Linked DNA regions of Homo sapiens. The protein of the gene in region 1 interacts with the protein of each later gene in a biochemical or structural test. Each region holds a gene or a part of one and is shown on either strand. Other genes may lie near its edges.

What was found.
Region 2: the proteins of BNIPL (region 1) and MIF form a complex in vitro, tested with the Homo sapiens proteins (one study listed by BioGRID).

What each region holds. Positions count from the first base shown.
Region 1 is NC_000001.11:151,031,763-151,039,610, reverse strand, and holds the start of BNIPL (bcl-2/adenovirus E1B 19 kDa-interacting protein 2-like protein), read right to left. Parts: upstream 3,026-7,848; 5' UTR 2,886-3,025; coding exon 2,845-2,885; intron 2,297-2,844; exon of another isoform or gene 2,045-2,296; coding exon 1,949-2,044; intron 1,866-1,948; exon of another isoform or gene 1,108-1,865; coding exon 1,043-1,107; intron 816-1,042; coding exon 585-815; intron 1-584. Other genes in the region: exopolyphosphatase PRUNE1, read right to left, coding at 5,377-5,805. UniProt on the Homo sapiens protein: May be a bridge molecule between BCL2 and ARHGAP1/CDC42 in promoting cell death.
Region 2 is NC_000022.11:23,889,919-23,895,723, forward strand, and holds MIF (macrophage migration inhibitory factor), read left to right. Parts: upstream 1-4,464; 5' UTR 4,465-4,556; coding exon 4,557-4,664; exon of another isoform or gene 4,665-4,853; coding exon 4,854-5,026; exon of another isoform or gene 5,027-5,121; coding exon 5,122-5,188; 3' UTR 5,189-5,305; downstream 5,306-5,805.

The sequences.
Region 1 (7,848 bases):
CATATTAAAATAGTCATGCTCATACTTTGAATTCCCCAACATGCCATGCTATTGCTTGAGTTGCTTCTGCTTCTTCTCCTTAGAATGCCCTCTCTCCAACTACCTGATAAATGTCAGCTTCAGTTTTCAACACTTAGCTCAGAATCATCTCCTTCATGAAGCCTTTCCTAACATCTCTCAGGCAGAACTGACCTTTTCCTTCTCCCTGTCTACACTGTACCCTACACATATATAGATCATAACCTTTAACTGCAATTATTTTTATATATGTTTATTTCCTACTAAGCAGAGAATTCCCTGTAGGCCCTCTCTTATTCATCTTTATAACCCCAGTCCTATACATGATAGTATGTAACAGGCATTCAATTAAATTTTCCTTAATAAACAATGGGCTCCCCTCCCCCTCTACTGACTACTCTCACATTGGACCTATAAGCCCAAGTTCCATTTGAGGAAACTAATTTTGCTGGCCGTAGCCCTTGGTCCCACCTTATTAGTTCTAACTGCAGTCCCATTAAGTCCATCCTGATCCTTTAGCTCTAGCCTCTACTTCTACCAGCTGAGTCCTCTGGTTTGTTTCCCACCTTCCCATTCAAATTCATGTCCACTGTCCAGCTGCTCCGAGTCTGAAGGTGTCTCCAATTCGTCTATCTCCAGGTCAGAACTGCCATCAGGAGAGGAAGGTGCAGACTGGGTGGGTGAAGCTCCATCATTTCCAGGCCCCTTAGTCAGACTCAGCCGCAACTCTGGGGCAGAAAGACGCTTGCGCATGGGGCGCTGGCCACACAGGGCTAAAGTGCTGGGGGTACCTGCAGCTGGAGAAAGGGGGAAAAAGAGAACCAAGATGGGTGTGTGTGTTGGAGAGCCGAGAGGGCTAGAATTCCTGTATGTGAAAGTGATAATATGGGGTGAATGCTGAAGAAGGACTCACGCAGGGGAGATTTGGGAAAAGGGGGAAATGGAACTGTAAAAGGATAGAGGTGGCATAGCCCTTTACTGGACTAGAATCAAGAACTTGAGGCCTGGTTTCTACTTGACCTACCTGCCTGTGAATCTCCTTTAGGGTCTTCAGGATCTTCAGAAGTGCCAGCCTCCTCAGGAAGCAATCTAGAGGGGAAGAGATTAAAAGGCGGCAGACATATACACCAAAGGCATCAAGCCAGGACTCAATATATAGGTTCTCTCTCCCCACCATGATTTTATCACCTATGCTGCTTTTTTTTTTAATTGTTTTTTTGAGACAGGGTCTCACTCTGTTGCCCAGGCTGGAATGCAGTGGCACAATCACAGCTCACTGCAGCCTCTACCTCCAGGGTTCAAGCGGTCCTCCCACCTCAGCCTCCCGAGTAGCTGGGCCTACAGGTGTGCACCACCACACTTGGCTAAATTTTGTATTTTTGTAGAGATGGGGTTATGCCATGTTGCCCAGAGTAGTCTTGAACTTCTGAGCTCAAGTGATCCACCTGCCTCGGCCTCCCAAAGTGCTGGGATTACAGGCATCAGCCACCACGCCCGGCCTCTGTTTTCTTTTTCCCATTTTTTTCCTTCAAGTCCTAATTCACCATCCCTGTGTCCATTTGCTTTTTTTTTTTTTTTTTTTTTTTTTTTTTGAGACAGAGTTTCACTCTTGTTGCCCAAGCTCGGGTGTAATGGCACAATCTCAGCTCACTACAACCTCTGCCTCCCAGGTTCAAGTGATTCTCCTGCCTCAGCCTCCCGAGTAGCTGGGATTACAGGCATGTGCCACCACACCTGGCTAATTTTGTATTTTTAGTAGAGACGGGATTTCACCGTGTTGGTCAGGCTGGTCTCAAACTCCTGACCTCAGGTGATCCACCCGCCTCGGCCACCCAAAGTGCTGGGATTACAGCCATGAGCCGCCGCGCCATCCCCTCCGTCCATTCGTGACCACCCCTCCCTTCTCCCAGCCACCCTCACACGTCCTCACCTAGGGAATTCTTCATCCTGCCATTCCTCCTTCAGCTCCAACTCCCCATGTCTCAGGGCTGCTCCTAGTTCTGGTGCTTCTGCAATCTCCCTGACCCTAAGACAGCCCCCAAGAAGAAAAGATCAAGGGAACTGAATAGTAGGTAAGAATAATTGAAATGAAGAACAGTAATTGAGATACAGAGCAGAGGATAGGCCTTCAAAAGGACTCAGATCTCTTGCCTCCTATACAGATGCTTCTCTTACCTTCACCACTTGCTAGAAGCAGATTACCTGCTGTTAAGTTTGGGAGCAGACGAAAGATGGAATGTAAAGTTAATCATATTTACCTCTGTAGCAGTTGCTCCACCTACAAAGTTGGGGTGAGAGATGTCCCACATTACAAGTGGCTGGAACCCAGCTAGACCCACCCAGCTATCATTGAGCAAAGTCGGGAAGACGGTACCTAGTTAGGCCTGCCTTTCCTCCACCGAGCTGGGGAGTGGCTAAGGGAAAACATGGCATAAGTGGAGGGGTGGAGGAAGAAGGTAAGGAGAAAGATTTGCCAGAACGAGAACCTGGACCTAAACTCGGTTCTGGTTCAGCTTTCCTGATGGCCATTCTGGAGGGTGAGGGTTAGAAAATAAAAGAACACAGGCAGATTTATCAGGTACAACATATTACAGAAACTTCCTTTATTTTTAAACCAGGGAATTATCCTGGAATCCTGTTCCCCAGTTCCATACCATACTGACATTTCCTACCTAAAACCACCCTCATCTCTTCTCTGCAAACTCTCTTACAGTCTTGTCTCCTTGAGGAACCCGAGATTTGACCCAGTAAGAGCTGGGTGGTGGGGAAGTCTCTCCGGACTGTTTATTCACTGTTACCAATCAAGTGAGCCAAGATCTTACTTACCCAACATCTGTCTTTTTTCCTGCCTCTTGTATAGTTCCCATCTTCACAAGTCTTCCTGCCTCCTTCTTTAAACACCTAGGAGTTGTTGGGGAGCTGGTTGTCCCAGCCCCCAACACTTCCTTACCTCTTTTCTGTCTCAGCTGTTGTAGCTCTTGCCTCCAAGGAGGGAGGTGTGGAAGGGAGGTAACCTCATCTTCAAAACAGGTTTTGCCACTCCTCTCCCCAGGAGCAGGTTTGCCCAAAAGAAAAACCCTGCCTCCTGTGAGGGGGCGGGTTTTGGGGAGGAGAGTGCATTTTCTAGTGGGGGCCAGTCTCGGTTGAGTCTAGGAAGGCAATTTGTTCTCCTTTCCAGACTCCATATATCCCTCTCAAAGTTGCTCTTTACACAAATAAGCAAAAAAACCAGTAGAAACCGTTGTGTTTCTGGCCGGGCGTGGTGGCTCACACCTGTAATCCCAACACTTTGGGAGGCCAAGGCAGGCGGATCACCTGAGGTCGGGAGTTTGAGACCAGCCTGACCAATGTGGAGAAACCCCATCTCTACTAAAAATCCAAAAAAAAAAAAAAAAAAAAAAAAAAAAAAAAATTATCTGGGCGTGGTGACACATGCCTATAATCCCAGCTACTTGGGAGGCTGAGGCAGGAGAATCGCTTGAACCTGGGAGGCAGAGGTTGTAGTGGGCTGAGATTGTGCCATTGCACTCCAGCCAGGGCAAAAAGAGCAAAACTCCATCTCAAAAAAAAAAAAAAAAAGAAAAAGAAACCATTGTGTGTGTTTCTAGGACTGTTATCTTGGATCTACTTTTCAAGCATAAGGAAAACTGGGGAAACGGAAGTATGTTATAAGGAGGTTTCTGGGAGAATAAACAAGTTGAACGGGAGGCTGAGGATGAGGGGAGACAGAAGCCTGTTGCTCCTTATTCCCAAAAAGAGTCAACAGAAAGAAGACATTAAGTATAGTAGGAAGAAGGGGGATCAATTTTGAGGAGACTGAAACAACTATCACAGAGAAAGGCCTGAATACACTTGTAAAAAAAGACAGTAAGACCCCCAAACAGGAAAAAATTATTTAATAGTATAACAAAATGCAAAATAAAGTACCCAAGTTACAAAACATAAATTCCTTTGGTTCATGATCACACCACTATTTTTACCTTCCACATAGCTACAGACATCACACCCTCAAAGTGAAGTCAAACTGTCCCCCTCATACTGAAGATGTCATGCCAAAACCATCACATACCCCACTGTTCAGTGAAACTGTTGGCAACTTACATGGAACAGAGCTGTGGGGTAGGAAAAAGGGGAAAGGGTTGCGTTAAAAAAAATGGGGAGACTCTACACATGCAGAACAAGTTAGTGGGAGGGAGTGCTCTGCTGGGTCAACACGCCATGAACCACACCCCTATTCGTGCTACATGAGGCTGAGTCCTTGCTACAACCACACAGAAATACAGACAATCAAGTGAACCTGAGCACCCCCAGGGATAACAGAAGAAAAATACAGAGAAGCAGAGGAGAGAAAGAATGGCAGCAAGAGGCAGATCACAGAATACCAGGGAACACCTAGTCCAAACCCTGTTTTACAGATGGGGAAAGTGAGACCTGGAGTAGTGAAGTGTCTTGCCAAAATACATAGTTTATGGGAGCATTAGAACTCCATGCTTCCTTTTAATGTGAGCAAGGAAAAAAAGAGATTGACAAGAAATTGATAGGCCTGCTAAGGCAGGAGACAGACCCAGGCCTCTCATTCCAGTTCTGTTGTCTTTTTGGAAGAGTGCCTATGAGGTCATTAAGGCCTTTCTGGGTGTTTTCTTGATTCTCAAGAGTCAGGGTTCTGGGTGGCTCTGGGACAGAGGGATCCAAAGAAACAGCCAGGCCACCTGATCAGGACAGAAGACAATGGCCTCTAATCTGTTCCCAAACTAGATCTGAAACAGTCACAATAAGCTAAGAATAGAAATTCAGCCATCTCTGAATCAAACACCATCACCTAAATGGTGGCAGAAAGAAAAGTCACCGAGCTGATAATCTGCTGTAGGCTGAAAACTGGAATAAATTTCCAAAGCGCACTCTCTTTTCTCTCTAGCTTGAGGCAGGTATTCAATAAATACTTGAATGAACAAGTGAATAAATGAATACATGGAGACCATCGATGAATGTTCAGTTCCATGACAGATACTGGTTCTGTTCAAGATCCATGCCGAGGACACTTTTGGGGTCTAAATTCTTTTTGTCCCACTGTGCTGGGACTGCAGATATGTCACATCGTGCCCCTGGCAAATAAAATAGAGAGAGGTGCAGATTTAAATAATAAAATGTGTCTGATTGGTAGAGATTAGGGGGAAAAGGTGGAAAACCATTCTTAAAGCAGCTGCTTTCTTTCACTTTTTTTCTCCTCTCAGTTTTATGAGAACAGTATACCAGATCCTGGAGCAATGAAGACAGAATTGCTGAATCTCCAAACATCTCAAAACATGCATTTGAAGTGAGTCAGGTAGCCTCACCCACTACCTCCTCGCCTCTCAACAGTCACTTCTTGGACAGGGAGGCTGTGGTAGACTGTGACAGTGAGATCTGACTGCACTTCTCGAAGACGGCCTCAGCAGAGAGTTTAGGCAGCCCCTGATCTAGAGGGCACTCATCCACCAAGCTGTTCATGGGCGTCGGGGGCAGCGGAGGGTCCTCCTCATCTTGACTCAGGCCAGAAATCAGGGAGTTACTTGCCCTGTCCAATTCCTTGTCCACTTGCTCCCTGGACACATCTGCTGTCTCAGGCTGTCCTGAAGGGATCTTCATGGAGTCAAAATATGCTGACAGGGCTTCCTGGAGCAGGGGCAGAAGTTTCTTTCGAGAGACCTGGGTGTTGCCTTGAAGATAGGCATGGAGGTTAGGGTGGGTACTTGAGGCAGGGGTCAGCTTCAGGGGTGGAGAGTGGGAGCGTTCCAGGACTTCACAGATCTAAAGAGGAGACAATAACAGGGAAATGATACACAACTTGCTGTAGCAAAGTGCTGGGCTTCTAAGTGAGAGGCTTCCTCTATAGAAGAGGAAGCTTTTAAAAAGTAAGTCGGCCGGGCGGGGTGCGGTGGCTCACGCTTGCAATCCCAGCACTTTGGGAGGCCGAGGCGGGTGGATCATGAGGTCAGGAGATTGAGACCATCCTGGCTAACACAGTGAAACCCCGTCTCTACTAAAAATACAAAAAATTAGCCGGGCATGGTGGCGGGTGCCTGTAGTCCCAGCTACTCGGGAGGCTGAGGCAGGAGAATGGCGTGAACCCAGGAGGCGGAGCTTGCAGTGAGCGGAGATCGCGCCACTGCACTCCAGCCTGGGCGACAGAGCAACACTGCATCTCAAAAAAAAAAAAAAAAAGTAAGTCAGCCGGGCGCGGTGGCTCACGCCTGTAATCCCAGCACTTTGGGAGGCTAAAGGGGGCCGATCACCTGAGGTCGGGAGTTTGAGACCAGCCTGACCATCATGGAGAAACCCCATCTCTACTAAAAATACAAAATTAGCCAGGCATGATGGCGCATGCCTGTAATCCCAGCTACTTGGGAGGCTGAGGCAGGAGAATCACTTGAACCCAGGAGACAGAAGTTGCAGTGAGCCAAGATGGTGCCACTGCACTCCAGCCTGGGCAACAAGAGCGAAACTCCGTCTCAAAAAAAAAAAAAAGTAAGTTATCCTTGAGGCCGGGCACAGTGGCTCACGCCTGTAATCCCAGCACTTTGGGAGGCCAAGGTGGGCGGATCACCTGAGGTCAGGAATTCGAGAACAGCCTTGTCAACATGCTGAAACCCCATCTCTACGAAAAATACAAAAATTAGCCAGACATGGTGGTTCACACCTGTAATCCCAGCTACTTGGGAGGCTGAGATAGGAGAATCATTTGAACCTGGGAGGCGGAGGTTGCAGTGAGCCGAGATCTCACCATTGCACTCCAGCCTGGGCAATAAAGCAAGACAAGAAAAAAAGTAAGTTGTCCAGAGTTCGGTTTTATTGTTTGCAACAGAAGGAACACTAATATACACAGTATTTTTTTTTTTTTTTGAGACAGAGTCTTGCTCTGTCGCCCAGGCTGGAGTGCAGTGGTGCAATCTCAGTTCAGTACAACCTCTGCCTCCCCGGTTCAAGTGAATCTCCTGCCTCAGCCTCCCATGTAGCTGGGACTACAGGCATGTGTCACCCAGCCTGGCTAATGTTTGTATTTTTAGTGGAGACGGGGTTACACCATGTTAGCCAGGCTGGTCTCGAACTCCTGCCCTCAGGTCATCCGCTCTCGCCTCGGCCTCCCAAAGTGCTAGGATTACAGGTGTGAGCCACCAAGCCTGGCCCACAGTATTTTATTTTAGTATTTTGTATTTTTTATTTAATAGACTAGGGATGGGGTCTTGCTATGTTGCCCAGGCTGGTCTCCAAATCCTGGTCTCAAGCAATCCTCCTGCTTCAGCCTCCGAAAGTGCTGGGATTCATACACAGTGTTTTATTTATTTTATTTTACTTTAATTTTTTTTTTTTTGAAATGGATTCTTGCTCTGTTACCCAGGCTGGAGTACAGTGGCACGATCTTAGCTCACTGCAACCTTCGCCTCCCAGATTCAAGCAATTCTCTTGCTTCAGCCTCCTGAGTAGCTGGGATTACAGGCACCTGCCATCATGCCCAGCTAATTTTTGTATTTTTAGTAGAGACGGGGTTTCGCCATATTGGCCAGGCTGGTCTCAAACTCCTGAGCTCAGGTGATCTGCCCAGCTCAGCCTCCCAAAGTTCTGGGATTACAGGCATGAGCTACCATACCCAGCCATACACAGTATTTTAAAAACAGAGGAAACAGTTTAGATTGTATATTTCATTTTATTATTAAAGTAACTAAAGCGAAGTAAGATGGTTGTGAGTAAAATCATGCAGATGATGGCAGTTAAACCAGAACCGAGGAACCCCAGCTTCTAATCTAGTGTCGTTTCCAAGTGTATAAATGTGCTCAAGAACTTGAACTAGGATGG
Region 2 (5,805 bases), on another chromosome or scaffold:
TTCTCTTGTATTTGTTCTCATCCTCTCCTTTCTTGGACCCTCTGAGTCTCTGGTTCCCTCTTGTTGGGACCCAGATCACTCTGTGCCTCAGCTGAATCATTTTTCCCTTCAGTTTACACATATCCACCTAGGGTCCACTACATCCAGAGGCTTCCGCCTCAGTCCTTGTCCTCAGGCTGTGCCCAGGGTTGTGAGGATGGCGGTGGTCCTTACCTTGCAAAACAGTCTCCCAGTGACAACAATGTTCAGGGATAACATCTATGGAGGGCTTTCTATGTATCAGGACCATTCTGAGTATCTTCCAAGTGTTAGCTCCTTTAATCCTGGAAAGGACCCCATGAAATTAGTACTTTTATTACCCCTGTTGTACATATGAGAGACTGAGTAAAAGCCGGTGGCTTGTCCAGGGTCACACAGCTAACTGGAATGGCCAGGAGTAGACCTGGTGACCATGGACCCCAGACCTTGATCACTGCACACGCTGCGTCTGGGACCTCGCCTGGTACCTGAGGTCCGTGGCGCGCTGGTGCTGATCATTCAGAGTGCTCATGGGAAGTGTAGTCTAGAGTCTGTGTGCTTCCTGATCTCCTTGATCTCCATTTTATTGAGGAGGCCTTTAGGCCACCCGAGGGGTCCAGAGTGACCCTGTGGATTAGCAGTGGAGCTCAGCTTGAGCCAGCGCTCTTCAGGGGTCGTGTTCTGCCCCCATTCTCTGGTTCATTCTGCAGGTAGCAGGGAATCATTGAAGATTAGAGAGAATCAAACACCTGGAGAGAGATGACTCTGCCCGGGGAGCCCAGGCTCCTGTCTGGGTGCACACTCCAGGGCTAGATGGTGACTTCTCAGCTACTCTAGCTTCATAGGCTCATAGTGCATGTGAGCACTCATGTGGACACACGTGCACGCGCACACACATGGACACACACACACACACACACACCGCTGTCTTTGGAATCAGACCATGAAAATGCTTCCTCAGAGGCCTAGGGGTGAGGAAGCTGAGGTGAGTTGTGCCTCCAGCTGGATGTGCTGGGATGGGGTGGGAGATGAGGTGGCCACACCTGGGTGGCAGGAACTCTGGGGCAGTGAACCTTCTAACGAACAGATCTGGGATGCTGCCATGAGGAGGAAGAGGGAGTCAGCAGCCATGCCTGCCAATGCCTCCTAGCGCATTTGTCCATGGTTAGCGGATAATTATTGTGTCCCTATGGGTCCCAAGGTGTATTATTTTTTTTTTGCTCTTATAATAAATCAACACAAATTTTTAGCAGCTTCAAACAACACGCATTTATTATCTCACAGTTTCTGTGGGTCAGTAGTCCGGCGTGACATGACTAGGTCTTCTGTGTAAGGACTCGCATGGCCAAAGTCAAGGTATCTGAAGGGACAAGGGAAAAATCCACTTCCAAGTTCAATCTGGTTGTGAGCAGAATTCAGTTCCTTGTGGTTGTACCATGAGGTCTCTGGTCCCCTTCATCTTCAAAGCCGGTAATGGACATCGAGTGTTTCTCTTGCTTGGAATCTGGCACTCTAGCTGGAGAAAATTATCTGCTTTTAAGAGTTCATGTGATTAGATTGGGTGTACCCAGATGCTCCATGCTAATCTCCCTATTATGCACAGATGCATAATCCTAATTGCATCTGTGAAGTGCTTTTTGCCAGGTAACATGGCATACTTGTAGGTTCCAGGGATTAGTGCTTGTCCTCCCCCTGCTATTCTTTAGTGGGCAGGGGGTCATCTGCCTACCACGGAGGTAAGGGGTCAGGAGGTATGCATACAGCAATGCCCAAAAAGAGACTGTCCCCACTGGGATGGAGTTTACCGCCTAGACATGCAGTCTTAACTCAGAAATATGGAGATAGCCTCGAAGGACAGGACAGGTACTGGGCACGTGTGGGAATGGACCAAGCCAGGTGCTCCGGGGGCTTTCCCAAGGAACTAAGGCTGAGCCAAGAACTGAAGGATGAGTTGGAGTCAGATGAGGGAAAATGTGGGCAAACTGGATTTCAGAACCAACCCCCAACCCTGGAGCCAGGAGCCATGGTACTGAAGGACAGTGCGCCATAACTCAGAGAACCAGGGAGGGTTGGCGGAGGCTCACAGGGACCGGGTTACCCCAGGGCCTTGTGACAGTACTACCCCTAGTATCAGAGGAGACTGTCATTGGCATTTAGGCCACTTGGTGCTCATAACACCTCTATGTCAGGTGAACACTATTGTCATCCCCAAATTACAGATGGGGAAAGTGAGCCAAATGTCCATGCTAGTAAGAGGCAAATCATATCACTTCTTTGGGTACCCTTCTAGAAGGATGAGGCTGACTGCCACTGGAAACAGCTGGGGAGGGTACAAGGAGATGACAAGTGGCTCAGAGGCTGTCCTGGCTATAAGAATTAAAGAGGAAAGAAACACCAAGGGTGGCTCGACAGTCAACAAGGACAGGTTTATTTTGGAAAACAAACTTGAGAGGGGCTTCTGGCCAAGTTAGGTCAGAGCCACACTCTCTTACAAACTAAGGATATTTAAGGGTTTTGGAGGGGGTTCTTATCATAGGTTCTGAATGTTTCTGTGTGAGGGAAAGTTTATTGCGGGGATGGAATGTCTCTGGTCAGAAGGGAGGCTGTCTCCGGGTTGGCATGTTTCTGGTCAGAGAAGGGTTTATCTTAGGGTTGGAATGTTTCTGGTTATGCTGACATTAGCTATTAGGCTGATATTTTCGGGCTGGATTTAGGCGGCTTTTAATTAAGGGGGAACTTAGAATGGTGGTGTTTGTTCAAGATGGCAATGCTCCTGCTCCGTCACTGGCCAGGTAAGGCAACCCTTTGTTATGGTAACAACCTGAGATTGGCAGGGGCTCACCTCCAGGGGCAGCTCATGTGCTTGCTGGCGAGGCTGCACCTTGTCATTCAGGTTCACAGGGCACAGGTCAACCAGGCCCTGGCTCTTCAGTCTTCTGCCTGGAGTGACTTATGTAATTCTGCTCAGCTTTCATAGGGCACAGGGAGTCGGGGCTAACTCTGCTGCCTGGGGCTGGAAACAGACTCCTCCCTTGAGGAGCAGCAGTCCACCATAGGGAAGTCACAGTGGTCCAGGCCAAAGGGGATGCAGGTAGTGTAGACTAGGCGGTAGTTCAGGGAATGGAGAGAAGTGGGAATAAAGGGATAGTGAAAGGAAGCATATTTTACTGGCAGGTGATGAGGTGTAGGAGGACAAGTCATACATTTGGACTTTACAGAGCAGTGGACACTCAGTCAGCTGCTGTCAGCGCCTGGGACTTAGGGGAGTGCCCCTGGCTGGAGACATGGTATGGAGTGCCATCAGTTAGGGAGCCCTGGGCACAGGTAAGAGAAGGTGTGACACCAGGAGGGAAAGAGTCTGGGGCCCAGCTGCAGGAACCAATACCCATAGGCTATTTGTATAAATGGGCCATGGGGCCTCCCAGCTGGAGGCTGGCTGGTGCCACGAGGGTCCCACAGGCATGGGTGTCCTTCCTATATCACATGGCCTTCACTGAGACTGGTATATGGATTGCACCTATCAGAGACCAAGGACAGGACCTCCCTGGAAATCTCTGAGGACCTGGCCTGTGATCCAGTTGCTGCCTTGTCCTCTTCCTGCTATGTCATGGCTTATCTTCTTTCACCCATTCATTCATTCATTCATTCAGCAGTATTAGTCAATGTCTCTTGTATGCCTGGCACCTGCTAGATGGTCCCCGAGTTTACCATTAGTGGAAAAGACATTTAAGAAATTCACCAAGGGCTCTATGAGAGGCCATACACGGTGGACCTGACTAGGGTGTGGCTTCCCTGAGGAGCTGAAGTTGCCCAGAGGCCCAGAGAAGGGGAGCTGAGCACGTTTGAACCACTGAACCTGCTCTGGACCTCGCCTCCTTCCCTTCGGTGCCTCCCAGCATCCTATCCTCTTTAAAGAGCAGGGGTTCAGGGAAGTTCCCTGGATGGTGATTCGCAGGGGCAGCTCCCCTCTCACCTGCCGCGATGACTACCCCGCCCCATCTCAAACACACAAGCTCACGCATGCGGGACTGGAGCCCTTGAGGACATGTGGCCCAAAGACAGGAGGTACAGGGGCTCAGTGCGTGCAGTGGAATGAACTGGGCTTCATCTCTGGAAGGGTAAGGGGCCATCTTCCGGGTTCACCGCCGCATCCCCACCCCCGGCACAGCGCCTCCTGGCGACTAACATCGGTGACTTAGTGAAAGGACTAAGAAAGACCCGAGGCGAGGCCGGAACAGGCCGATTTCTAGCCGCCAAGTGGAGAACAGGTTGGAGCGGTGCGCCGGGCTTAGCGGCGGTTGCTGGAGGAACGGGCGGAGTCGCCCAGGGTCCTGCCCTGCGGGGGTCGAGCCGAGGCAGGCGGTGACTTCCCCACTCGGGGCGGAGCCGCAGCCTCGCGGGGGCGGGGCCTGGCGCCGGCGGTGGCGTCACAAAAGGCGGGACCACAGTGGTGTCCGAGAAGTCAGGCACGTAGCTCAGCGGCGGCCGCGGCGCGTGCGTCTGTGCCTCTGCGCGGGTCTCCTGGTCCTTCTGCCATCATGCCGATGTTCATCGTAAACACCAACGTGCCCCGCGCCTCCGTGCCGGACGGGTTCCTCTCCGAGCTCACCCAGCAGCTGGCGCAGGCCACCGGCAAGCCCCCCCAGGTTTGCCGGGAGGGGACAGGAAGAGGGGGGTGCCCACCGGACGAGGGGTTCCGCGCTGGGAGCTGGGGAGGCGACTCCTGAACGGAGCTGGGGGGCGGGGCGGGGGGAGGACGGTGGCTCGGGCCCGAAGTGGACGTTCGGGGCCCGACGAGGTCGCTGGGGCGGGCTGACCGCGCCCTTTCCTCGCAGTACATCGCGGTGCACGTGGTCCCGGACCAGCTCATGGCCTTCGGCGGCTCCAGCGAGCCGTGCGCGCTCTGCAGCCTGCACAGCATCGGCAAGATCGGCGGCGCGCAGAACCGCTCCTACAGCAAGCTGCTGTGCGGCCTGCTGGCCGAGCGCCTGCGCATCAGCCCGGACAGGTACGCGGAGTCGCGGAGGGGCGGGGGAGGGGCGGCGGCGCGCGGCCAGGCCCGGGACTGAGCCACCCGCTGAGTCCGGCCTCCTCCCCCCGCAGGGTCTACATCAACTATTACGACATGAACGCGGCCAATGTGGGCTGGAACAACTCCACCTTCGCCTAAGAGCCGCAGGGACCCACGCTGTCTGCGCTGGCTCCACCCGGGAACCCGCCGCACGCTGTGTTCTAGGCCCGCCCACCCCAACCTTCTGGTGGGGAGAAATAAACGGTTTAGAGACTAGGAGTGCCTCGGGGTTCCTTGGCTTGCGGGAGGAATTGGTGCAGAGCCGGGATATTGGGGAGCGAGGTCGGGAACGGTGTTGGGGGCGGGGGTCAGGGCCGGGTTGCTCTCCTCCGAACCTGCTGTTCGGGAGCCCTTTTGTCCAGCCTGTCCCTCCTACGCTCCTAACAGAGGAGCCCCAGTGTCTTTCCATTCTATGGCGTACGAAGGGATGAGGAGAAGTTGGCACTCTGCCCTGGGCTGCAGACTCGGGATCTAAGGCGCTCTGCCCGCCGGAATCCGTTGTACCTAGGGCCACCACGTGGGGTGCTGGAGGTGAGCCGACCACGGAAGAGGGGGAGGAGGAGTTGGAGTTGGGAGGAGTCCGAGGTCTTCTAGGCCTAGACCTTTCTCTCAGCCCCACCTTCCCCAGCCTTCTTGTTGGGCAGAGGGTAGCCAGAGGACAGAAAGATCCCACCCAGAGCCACTCACTGCCATCCACTTTGTTAGGTGACTTCAGG